Regions from separate parts of the Homo sapiens genome. Here region 2 is linked to region 1. The links come from fine-mapping of genetic effects on gene expression. A gene starts in region 1. The other region holds a variant in brackets. All regions are shown on one strand. Distances are between the middles of the regions.

The links. PIP is the estimated chance that this variant, and not a neighbour inherited with it, causes the effect. A credible set is the group of variants that fine-mapping cannot tell apart.
Region 2: its variant is the best candidate, but not a certain one, in a credible set for the expression of PSMD2 in whole blood (INTERVAL, PIP 0.69).

The regions. Positions count from the first base shown.
Region 1 is chr3:184,296,880-184,302,250 of GRCh38, forward strand. It overlaps PSMD2 (proteasome 26S subunit ubiquitin receptor, non-ATPase 2), which reads left to right and starts at 2,362. Exons shown (of 21, transcript NM_002808.5): 1 at 2,362-2,522; 2 at 2,972-3,028; 3 at 3,401-3,565; 4 at 4,658-4,779; 5 at 4,968-5,192. The coding sequence starts at 2,388. RefSeq lists a silencer at 2,030-2,369.
Region 2 is chr3:184,318,783-184,324,153 of GRCh38, forward strand. EIF4G1 (eukaryotic translation initiation factor 4 gamma 1) reads left to right here. Exons shown (of 33, transcript NM_198241.3): 7 at 907-1,019; 8 at 1,848-1,940; 9 at 2,145-2,211; 10 at 2,500-3,321; 11 at 3,580-3,668; 12 at 3,762-3,948; 13 at 4,039-4,172; 14 at 4,301-4,459; 15 at 4,626-4,811; 16 at 4,998-5,195. Among named protein-coding and RNA genes, the nearest start is that of SNORD66, 4.2 kb to the right of the region's middle. The variant A/G (reference allele first, on the strand shown) is at 3,096.

The sequences.
Region 1 (5,371 bases):
TTCCAGCACTTTGGGAGGCCAAGGCAGGCAGATAACTTGAGGTCAGGAGTTCAAGACCAGCCTGGCCAACATGGTGAATCCCCGTCTCGACTAAAAATACAAACATTAGCGGGGTGTGGTGGTGCATGCCTGTAGTCCCAGTTACTTGGGAGGCTGAAGCAGGAAAATCACCTGAACCCGGGAGGCAGAGGTTGCAGCAAGCTGAGATCATGCCACTGCACTCCAGCCTGGACGACAGAGCGAGACTCCGTCTGGAAAAAAAAAAAAAAAAGAAGAAGGAAGTCATGGATAAAGAGGAGTTTTAGAAAAAAATCCCTCTACAGATGACTGAAGAAAGCATGAAAATGTATGGACACCGTGAAGCCAGAGATAGAATAGGCAGAACAGTTATGGACTGTTGAATTTTTGTCTGCAGACCAGCGCTGGGGGAGTCATTGGCAATGGCAATGGAAGGTCATGCCTAGAATCCAAGCACTGAGTGGAAAAGAGCAACAGGTATTTAAAATGGATTCAGACCTTTACTTCCGTATCTACACAAACATTTACCCAACATTCACTCTGTGATATGTTGTACTAGGTGTCTTTTTCTTCAATGTGTCAGAACCCATAAAATAAGATTGCTAGAAGACTCCTGAGTGTTCCCACTAGGTGAAAGGGAGAAGAGATACTTCCTTTTTTCTCACCTTACACGCACACACACACACACACAGCTGAAGAAGAAACTCTGGGGTTTGCCTAAAACAGTCAAGGGCTTTGAAGACTGAAAGACTGAGCTTTAAATTTTGATTCCGCCGGGCGCGGTGGCTCACGCTTGTAATCCCAGAACTTTGGGAGGCCGAGGCGGGCGGATCACCTGAGGTCGGGAGTTGGAGACCAGCCTGACCAACATGGAGAAACCCCGTCTCTACTAAAAATACAAAAATTAGCCGGGCGTGGTGGCACAAAAATTCAACAGTCCATAACTGTTCTGCCTATTCTATCTCTGGCTTCACGGTGTCCATACATTTTCATGCTTTCTTCAGTCATCTGTAGAGGGATTTTTTTCTAAAACTCCTCTTTATCCAGCTACTCGGGAGGCTGAGGCAGGAGAATCACTTGCACCCGGGAGGCGAAGGTTGTGGTGAGCCGAGATTGCGCCATTGCACTCCAGCCTGGGCAACAGGAGAGAAACACTATCTCAAAACAAATAAATAAAATAAAAAATAAATCCTCATTTTACTACTTGATATGATCTTCTCTGTAAAATGGACCTAACCCTACCAATCTCAAAAGATTGTAAGAAGTGCATGGAATCACTCGAAAGCAGTCCTGACATAAGCGCGTCAGTCACACGCCTCTAAGGCTTCACAGGGAAAGACGAGAAGATAGAGGACGAAGACCTTGTCTTGTTCTGCTTTTAGCTCCAGAACTTGGCGGGGAGCACAGGGCTTTATTGATCGATGTCAACTCCACCTGGCTCCCCAAAGTATTTAAAATGGTAGCCACGGGAATAGCAGAGTACTCTCTTTCAACTGGGGAGGAATATCAAATGAGGTTAATAGGCCGGGCGCGGTGGTTCACACCTGTAATTACAGCTCTTTGGGAGGCTGAGGCGGGCAGATCACTTGAGGTCAGGAGTTCGAGACCAGCCTGGCCAACATAGTGAAACCCCCGTCTCTACTAAAAAATACAAAAATTAGCTGGGCGTGGTGGCGGGCGCCTGTAATCCCAGCTACTCGGGAGGTTGAGGCACGAGAATCACTTGAACCTGGTAGGCGGAGTTTGCAGTGAGCCGAGATCGCGCCACTGCACTCCAGCCTGGGCGAGAGAGCGAGCCTCCTTCTCAAAAGCAACAACAACAACAAAACCAAATGAGGTTAATATTCCACAGTGGTGTGGGGCTAGACACAGTTACACAGACTTTATACAGGCGGCAATCAAGCGTCCTGGACGTCAAGAAATCTAGTTTGTCTGTCGCGCCACGCAGTCAACTGGAGTGTCACTGTGGGTTCTATTTACACCGTTATGAGAAAAACCTGTGGCGGAGTAAAACTCGGTAACTCCGCTCGCAGACCGCCCATCTACAGCAGTGAGCGAACCCAAACCCCACACGGCCAAGTCCCGCGGGTTTCAGGAAACTCCGAAGAGGTCGGGGGCCAGGGGCGACTATGGCGCGGGGGAGGCTGGGAATTGTAGTCTCCACCTGCCTCCGAGGGCGGGGTCCGAGGGCGGGGCTCTCAGGCCGAGGGGGTGGGTGGGTCGCCGAGCGCCCCGGCTCGCCCCGGCGTTTCCGGTCGCAGGCGGGCTCTGGAGGAGGAGGGGCGCCGCGACCGACGCGCGCGAGTTGGTCTGGGAAAAAGGGCGGTGCGAGCGGGTGCGCGCGCAGCGGGCCGGCAGTGGCGGCGGAGATGGAGGAGGGAGGCCGGGACAAGGCGCCGGTGCAGCCCCAGCAGTCTCCAGCGGCGGCCCCCGGCGGCACGGACGAGAAGCCGAGCGGCAAGGAGCGGCGGGATGCCGGGGACAAGGACAAAGAACAGGAGCTGGTGAGGCGCGACCCCGAGAGTCGGCGAAGGAGGCTGCGGGGCTGAGTCACGGCGGCTCCGCAGGCCTCAGGCCCGACACCCAACTACCCCACCGCGCCAGGGAGAGGGCGGTTGGGGCGACCCTCGGGACTCCCGGCACCTTGCCTCTCTGCTCCTCATTCTCCGTTCCGCGCTGTCACCTCCGCCGTCCCCACCAACCCTCACCACCGCCGCGTGAAGTGGACTCGGGCAGGTCATTGTCACCTCCGTTTCCTAGAGTGGCATTCAAGTAGAGCCTGATTCAGAACCCAGGCTGATTTCTCACCAGGGCTTCCCATTCCCACTCGGTTTCCTTGTCCACCTGGCCCCTCCTAAGGAGGCAGGCTTATTCTTCACCTGCCCCGGGTAAGTGGGAGGAGGACGTCTTTGGGATTCCTTCTCTTCATGAGCTGCTTCTCCCAACCCTCCAGTCTGAAGAGGATAAACAGCTTCAAGATGAACTGGAGATGCTCGTGGAACGACTAGGGGTGAGTCACGATGTTAACATGATTCGGTGCATGTTTGGATCTTTCCCACTTGTTTTATTCTTTTTTGAGGCAACTGCTATGTACGGTGGACTGTATTTTAGGGTCAGTGTTATGATGATGTTGGGAGGCAGGAGAGTTACAAAGGGTATTTGTACAGTTTTGCAGCTTTCTCTTGTGGGAGAAGCAGAGTTCTTACCTCTTAACTTGGGTCATTTGTTTTTGTGCCAGGCAGGGTGCAGGGAGTTGAGGAATCACAGATGAATGAATAAGACACAGCATTTCCTTGGAGGAGTTGTTAAGTTAAATATCTCTGTATTATGACTTGAAGGGGTGTGACTCCTTTTTGTCTGAGCCCTGTCGTCTCTTGATCAGGAGAAGGATACATCCCTGTATCGACCAGCGCTGGAGGAATTGCGAAGGCAGATTCGTTCTTCTACAACTTCCATGACTTCAGTGCCCAAGCCTCTCAAATTTCTGCGTCCACACTATGGCAAACTGAAGGAAATCTATGAGAACATGGCCCCTGGGGAGAATAAGGTAAAACTGTTTCAAACCTGGTGGAGGCCTAGTTTAGGAATTCCTTTTTACCCAGATCATGGGGGGACTCATTGTGAGTCACAGGAAGCCTGATAGACCTAAGCCGTGATCTATTTGAGCAGAGTTCATCACAGTCAAAATATCTACAGAAGAGCTGAAAGGAAGGTCAGCTTCTCAGAAGACACTGTTTCTGTCATGTGTATTGGACTTTGGGGTTTCATTAGCATGGTCTACTTTTAACGTATGTTTAACCTTGATTTTTCTCTTTTCTTCTATCCCATATACATTCATTTATCTCTAAAATATGTTCCACATTCAGTCACTTCTCTGCCTGCTGGTACAACCCTAATCCTGGAAATGTTCAGTTTTTGCATGGGTTATTGCAGCACCTCTTAACTGATGTTGTTGCTTTTGTGCTTTGTTCCTACACAGTCTGTCTCTCATGTAGCAGCTATCGTGATCTTTCTCGGTTATAGGTCTTTTCTGCTTAAGACCTTTTAATAGTTTATAATTGCAATTAAAGTAAAATTGAGAGCCTCCATTTTTTTCCACTTTATCCCTCATTTATCACCCTTCAGCTGTGTTAGTTTAAAAGGAAGACAGTGGCTGGGTGTGGTGGCTCACACCTGTAACCCTAGCACTTTGGGAGGCCGAGGGGTGGATCACCTGAGGTCAGGAGTTTTAGACCATCCTGGCCAACATGGTGAAACCCCGTCTCTACTAAAAATTAAAAAAAAAAAAATTAGCTGGGTGTGGTGGTGGGCGCCTGTAATCCCAGCTACTTAGGAAGCTGAGGCAGGAGAATCACTTGAACCCCGGAGGCAGAGGTTGCAGTGAACCGAGAGCACACCATTGCACTCCAGCCTGGGCAGCAAGAGCGAAACTGAGTCTCAAAAAAAAAAAAAAAAGGAGATAGCAACAACACCAACCTTGGTTTTTGTGAGGTTTAGCTTACATAACATGTTAAATTTCTAGTACAGAGATTGGTATGTAGTTAGTTCAGTTTCGGAGACAATGATCTTGATTCCACAATGCATGCTCCCTTTATGCTGGACTGCTGGGTTTGACTTCAAAGAACTCTTTTCTTTATAGCGTTTTGCTGCTGACATCATCTCCGTTTTGGCCATGACCATGAGTGGGGAGCGTGAGTGCCTCAAGTATCGGCTAGTGGGCTCCCAGGAGGAATTGGCATCATGGGGTCATGAGTATGTCAGGTAAGATCTTTCTTCTTGGGAATCCGAAGGGGGCTCTGAGGCTCTGAGATAATTCAGAATTTTCTTGTGGAGTACAATCTGTCTTGGAGCATCAGTGTATTGAATTTCCCAGACGCTGGATTCCTTGACCCACAGAGAAGTGCTTCCCCTGAAGCTGTGCTCTCTTAATCGTCTGGGACTATCTGTAGGCATCTGGCAGGAGAAGTGGCTAAGGAGTGGCAGGAGCTGGATGACGCAGAGAAGGTCCAGCGGGAGCCTCTGCTCACTCTGGTGAAGGAAATCGTCCCCTATAACATGGCCCACAATGCAGAGCATGAGGCTTGCGACCTGCTTATGGAAATTGAGCAGGTGGACATGCTGGAGAAGGACATTGATGAAAATGCATATGCAAAGGTCTGCCTTTATCTCACCAGGTGAGTGAACATGGTAGGGAAGGGTGGCAGGCATGCCCTCCTCAGCACCTCTCTCTCAATTGCGCCTCCTCTATTTTCCCAGAGCATTTGCTCAAGCATAGCATCACGCTGTAGTTAATCTTTTGATGTGTGTGAGTTTCTTGAGGACAGAGACTTTGTGTCTTCTTAGTAGTTCTAAC
Region 2 (5,371 bases), 22 kb after region 1:
TTAGTAGAGATGGTGTTTCATCATGTTGACCAGGCTGGTCTCGAACTCCTGGCCTCAAGTGATCCACCTGCCTCAGCCTCCCAAAGTGCTGAGATTATAGGCGTGAGCCACCACGCCTGGCCCTGTCTCAACTAAAAATACAAAAATTAGGCCTGGTGATGCACTCTTGTAATCCCAGCTATTCGGGAGGCTGAGGCAGGAGGATCGCTTGAACCCGGGATGTGGAGATTGCAGTGAACCAAGATTGTGCCACTGTATTCCAGCCTGGGCAATAGAGTGAGACTCCATCTCAAAAAAAAAAAAAAATTAAGGGGAAAAAAGAACTCACCCACTTTGGAGATAGTTTGCTTTAAGGAATTAATTTTTCTTCATCTTGAGCCTAGTTCATAATGTTACTTTGTTTCTTTGCCCCTTTGTAAAGGGCTGGAGACAGGAACTAGACTCAAGTTAAATGGAACAGGGTTGGCAGATCTCTTTCTCTCATTACCAGCCAAAGACCTGGTTCTGTTTCAGGTTCAGAGTATGTGTGTACATGTTGATAGCGGGTGGGGTACACACACGAGAGTAACTTGTACGGTGGAAGGACAGACATAAGTCCTCCTGGTCACTGGTGTGTGGTAGGAAAGAGTGCCTGCCTACGAGGGGTGTGTGTGTGTGTGTGTGTGTGTGTGTGTGTGTGTGTGTTTGTGTGTGTGTGTGTGTTAGGAATTCTTGTAAACGCAGTTCAGACTGGTTCCCCAGCTTTGACAGACACCTAATTCCCTGGGGGAGGAGGGCAGGGCAGGGCAAGGCAAGGGGCCGGCTGTGGGTGGTGAGAGGTTTTGGGGTGGGAGGTGTCAGGCAGGCATTAGTATATGGTTGGGCCCTGACGCTACCACCATTCTTCTCCGTCCCCCCTCCCCCAAGCTGGCGCCTACTATCCAGCCCAAGGGGTGCAGCAGTTTCCCACTGGCGTGGCCCCCACCCCAGTTTTGATGAACCAGCCACCCCAGATTGCTCCCAAGAGGGAGCGTAAGACGGTGAGTAGCAGTGAGGGGCTCCGGGACATCTGGGAAGGGGAGAATCAAGGTCAGGTGCTGCTGGGACATTGTGCCGGAAAGAGCAGTGACTTGAGGAGGAAGGAGCTGAGAGTGGGCAGAGAATGGTGTCTGTGGAGGGCTCAGGTTCTTTGTAAGATGCTAAGATTTCAGCATAGAAGCAGGTCATGGGAAGACTGAAGTGCCTAGCGAGGAAGTTCCTGCGAGACCTGGGTGCTGGGGGGTTGGAAGAACTATGCTTGGTTTTGGGTTTCTAGTGGCTTGCCTTGGAAATGGTTTGTTTTCTGTGGCCCCAGCCCCCATTCCCCCCTGCCCCCCCAGTCCTGGAAGCTCTCAAGGCCTCCGCCTCTGCTCAGTCCTCAAGCCCTGGGCGTGGTGCCCAGAATAGGGTGCCAGAGCTGGGGAAGCCGCTGAGTCACCCTGGCTCCACCTACTGGATCTGGGCCCTGCCCCCAGAGATCAGGCACACTAGCCACAAGTGAGCCGATTGGGTTCTAGATGGGGGTCCTGGGCCCCAGGGTGTGCAGCCACTGACTTGGGGACTGCTGGTGGGGTAGGGATGAGGGAGGGAGGGGCATTGTGATGTACAGGGCTGCTCTGTGAGATCAAGGGTCTCTTAAGGGTGGGAGCTGGGGCAGGGACTACGAGAGCAGCCAGATGGGCTGAAAGTGGAACTCAAGGGGTTTCTGGCACCTACCTACCTGCTTCCCGCTGGGGGGTGGGGAGTTGGCCCAGAGTCTTAAGATTGGGGCAGGGTGGAGAGGTGGGCTCTTCCTGCTTCCCACTCATCTTATAGCTTTCTTTCCCCAGATCCGAATTCGAGATCCAAACCAAGGAGGAAAGGATATCACAGAGGAGATCATGTCTGGGGCCCGCACTGCCTCCACACCCACCCCTCCCCAGGTACTGTCTGCTTTTCGAGTGATACCCTGGCTGGGATGTCTGTTCTGCCCTGGACTCCCAAGTCCCTGGATCTTTTCTTTCAACTAAGGGATTTATTTCCCTGCTTTCCTGGATTTCTAGGCAGAGCTAAAGTAGAAATGGCTCTAGTAAAGAAGGGTTGTGGGACTCTTCAGTGCAAACTTGGTAACCCTTTGTGTCCTGCAGACGGGAGGCGGTCTGGAGCCTCAAGCTAATGGGGAGACGCCCCAGGTTGCTGTCATTGTCCGGCCAGGTAAGTAAGCCGGTGGGACGGAGCTTTTATGGGGAAAGGGAATGTTAACAGTTAAATGCTGAGGTGGTGGAGTGACTTGAACTGGGTACCAGAGAATGATGACTTAGATTTCAGGTTGTGGGATTTTGAGGGTGAATTGGGTTTTGGATGAAAGTGGAAGTATAGCTTAGGTGGGGAGAAGATGATGCGGGGTTATTAAGTTGGGAATGCCTGGGCTGGAGGATGGGGAGGAACAACAGCAGTTAAGCACTTGCCTTTAGTTGCTCATTCTTCCTTCCTATGGTGCAGATGACCGGTCACAGGGAGCAATCATTGCTGACCGGCCAGGGCTGCCTGGCCCAGAGCATAGCCCTTCAGAATCCCAGCCTTCGTCGCCTTCTCCGACCCCATCACCATCCCCAGTCTTGGAACCGGGGTCTGAGCCTAATCTCGCAGTCCTCTCTATTCCTGGGGACACTATGACAACTATACAAATGTCTGTAGAAGAATCAACCCCCATCTCCCGTGAAACTGGGGAGCCATATCGCCTCTCTCCAGAACCCACTCCTCTCGCCGAACCCATACTGGAAGTAGAAGTGACACTTAGCAAACCGGTTCCAGAATCTGAGTTTTCTTCCAGTCCTCTCCAGGCTCCCACCCCTTTGGCATCTCACACAGTGGAAATTCATGAGCCTAATGGCATGGTCCCATCTGAAGATCTGGAACCAGAGGTGGAGTCAAGCCCAGAGCTTGCTCCTCCCCCAGCTTGCCCCTCCGAATCCCCTGTGCCCATTGCTCCAACTGCCCAACCTGAGGAACTGCTCAACGGAGCCCCCTCGCCACCAGCTGTGGACTTAAGCCCAGTCAGTGAGCCAGAGGAGCAGGCCAAGGAGGTGACAGCATCA[A/G]TGGCGCCCCCCACCATCCCCTCTGCTACTCCAGCTACGGCTCCTTCAGCTACTTCCCCAGCTCAGGAGGAGGAAATGGAAGAAGAAGAAGAAGAGGAAGAAGGAGAAGCAGGAGAAGCAGGAGAAGCTGAGAGTGAGAAAGGAGGAGAGGAACTGCTCCCCCCAGAGAGTACCCCTATTCCAGCCAACTTGTCTCAGAATTTGGAGGCAGCAGCAGCCACTCAAGGTAAGGTGTGGTTGGACGGTAGAGGTAGGGCGGGCTAGGGGATATCGTTCCTTGCCCTCCTTGATGACCGCCCATTTTTGACATGTTTCTGGGTCCCTGCAATGGAATCTAAGAACTAGATTAAGGACTTTTAAGCCTAAAAAGGGTGATGCAAAGGGGAAATACTGTTCTTTGGCTGCTTTCTATTTCCCAGGGATTAAGGGTACTCCTTAAATTATTGGCAAAGATCCATGCTTTTATTTATTTATTTTTAATTAGTGGCAGTATCTGTGCCAAAGAGGAGACGGAAAATTAAGGAGCTAAATAAGAAGGAGGCTGTTGGAGACCTTCTGGATGCCTTCAAGGAGGTAAGGGAGCAGAAAATGGGAGGGGAGAGGGCCAAGTTGAGGTATGGAGCAGTGGTCATTCTGCAACCAAAACTGGATGTTCTGTTGTTCTAGGCGAACCCGGCAGTACCAGAGGTGGAAAATCAGCCTCCTGCAGGCAGCAATCCAGGCCCAGAGTCTGAGGGCAGTGGTGTGCCCCCACGTCCTGAGGAAGCAGATGAGACCTGGGACTCAAAGGAAGACAAAATTCACAATGCTGAGAACATCCAGCCCGGGGAACAGAAGTATGAATATAAGTCAGGTATGCTGAAGAAAGGGTTGAGAATGGCTTGAGTTTTCTTATTAGGGCCAGAGGAGGCAGTATGATTGCTTCATTCTGTTTTCCTTGCAGATCAGTGGAAGCCTCTAAACCTAGAGGAGAAAAAACGTTACGACCGTGAGTTCCTGCTTGGTTTTCAGTTCATCTTTGCCAGTATGCAGAAGCCAGAGGGATTGCCACATATCAGTGACGTGGTGCTGGACAAGGTTAGTGGCTTCAGTTGGGGAGGGGACGATAAGTTTGTGCTGGATGGATTGGGGAGGAGCCTGAGGTCCTGAAAGAGTAGTCAACCGCTCTAGCCTGCTTCTGAGACCTTTTCCTGTCCTCTTTGCAGGCCAATAAAACACCACTGCGGCCACTGGATCCCACTAGACTACAAGGCATAAATTGTGGCCCAGACTTCACTCCATCCTTTGCCAACCTTGGCCGGACAACCCTTAGCACCCGTGGGCCCCCAAGGGGTGGGCCAGGTGGGGAGCTGCCCCGTGGGCCGGTGAGTGGGGCTGGGTAAAGTGGCAGGTGGGCAAGGAGTGGGAGTGGATGATTCCGTGTCTCAGTGCCCGCGGGGAGGGGTTTGCCCTGGAGGCGTGTAGTAGTGGTGTCACATATTGTGCTGACTAGTTCCATGTCCCCTCTTGTCTTCATCCCTTGCTTAGCAGGCTGGCCTGGGACCCCGGCGCTCTCAGCAGGGACCCCGAAAAGAACCACGCAAGATCATTGCCACAGTGTTAATGACCGAAGATATAAAACTGAACAAAGCAGAGAAAGCCTGGAAACCCAGCAGCAAGCGGACGGCGGCTGATAAGGATCGAGGGGAAGAAGATGCTGATGGCAGCAAAACCCAGGTACTGGCAAGTCCTGCTTTTGGTCTCTCTCCATTTCTTCTCCAGGTCTGCCATCTGTGCCCTCTTTGCTTCTTTTTGTCCTTATCACTAGCATCTGTCATGCCTAAGTCCCCACCACCCTCTCCTGTCCCTCCCAACAGCCTGTTCTGAGACCCTCACTGGAACTCTTGTCTCTTCTCCCTCCAGGACCTATTCCGCAGGGTGCGCTCCATCCTGAATAAACTGACACCCCAGATGTTCCAGCAGCTGATGAAGCAAGTGACGCAGCTGGCCATCGACACCGAGGAACGCCTCAAAGGGGTCATTGACCTCATTTTTGAGAAGGCCATTTCAGAGCCCAACTTCTCTGTGGCCTATGCCAACATGTGCCGCTGCCTCATGGCGGTTAGTTTCCAGTGGGTTCTAAATCTAATGGTCTGGTTGCCCATTCCTATTCCCAAGACTCCTTGAGTCCAGCTTCTTGGTTCCCCTCCAACTTGTGCCTCTTCCAGCTGGAAGGAGGCAGAGCTGGGGCCAGAGATCTTCCTGGGTCAGGTAGTTAAAGGCTCTTGGAGGGCCTT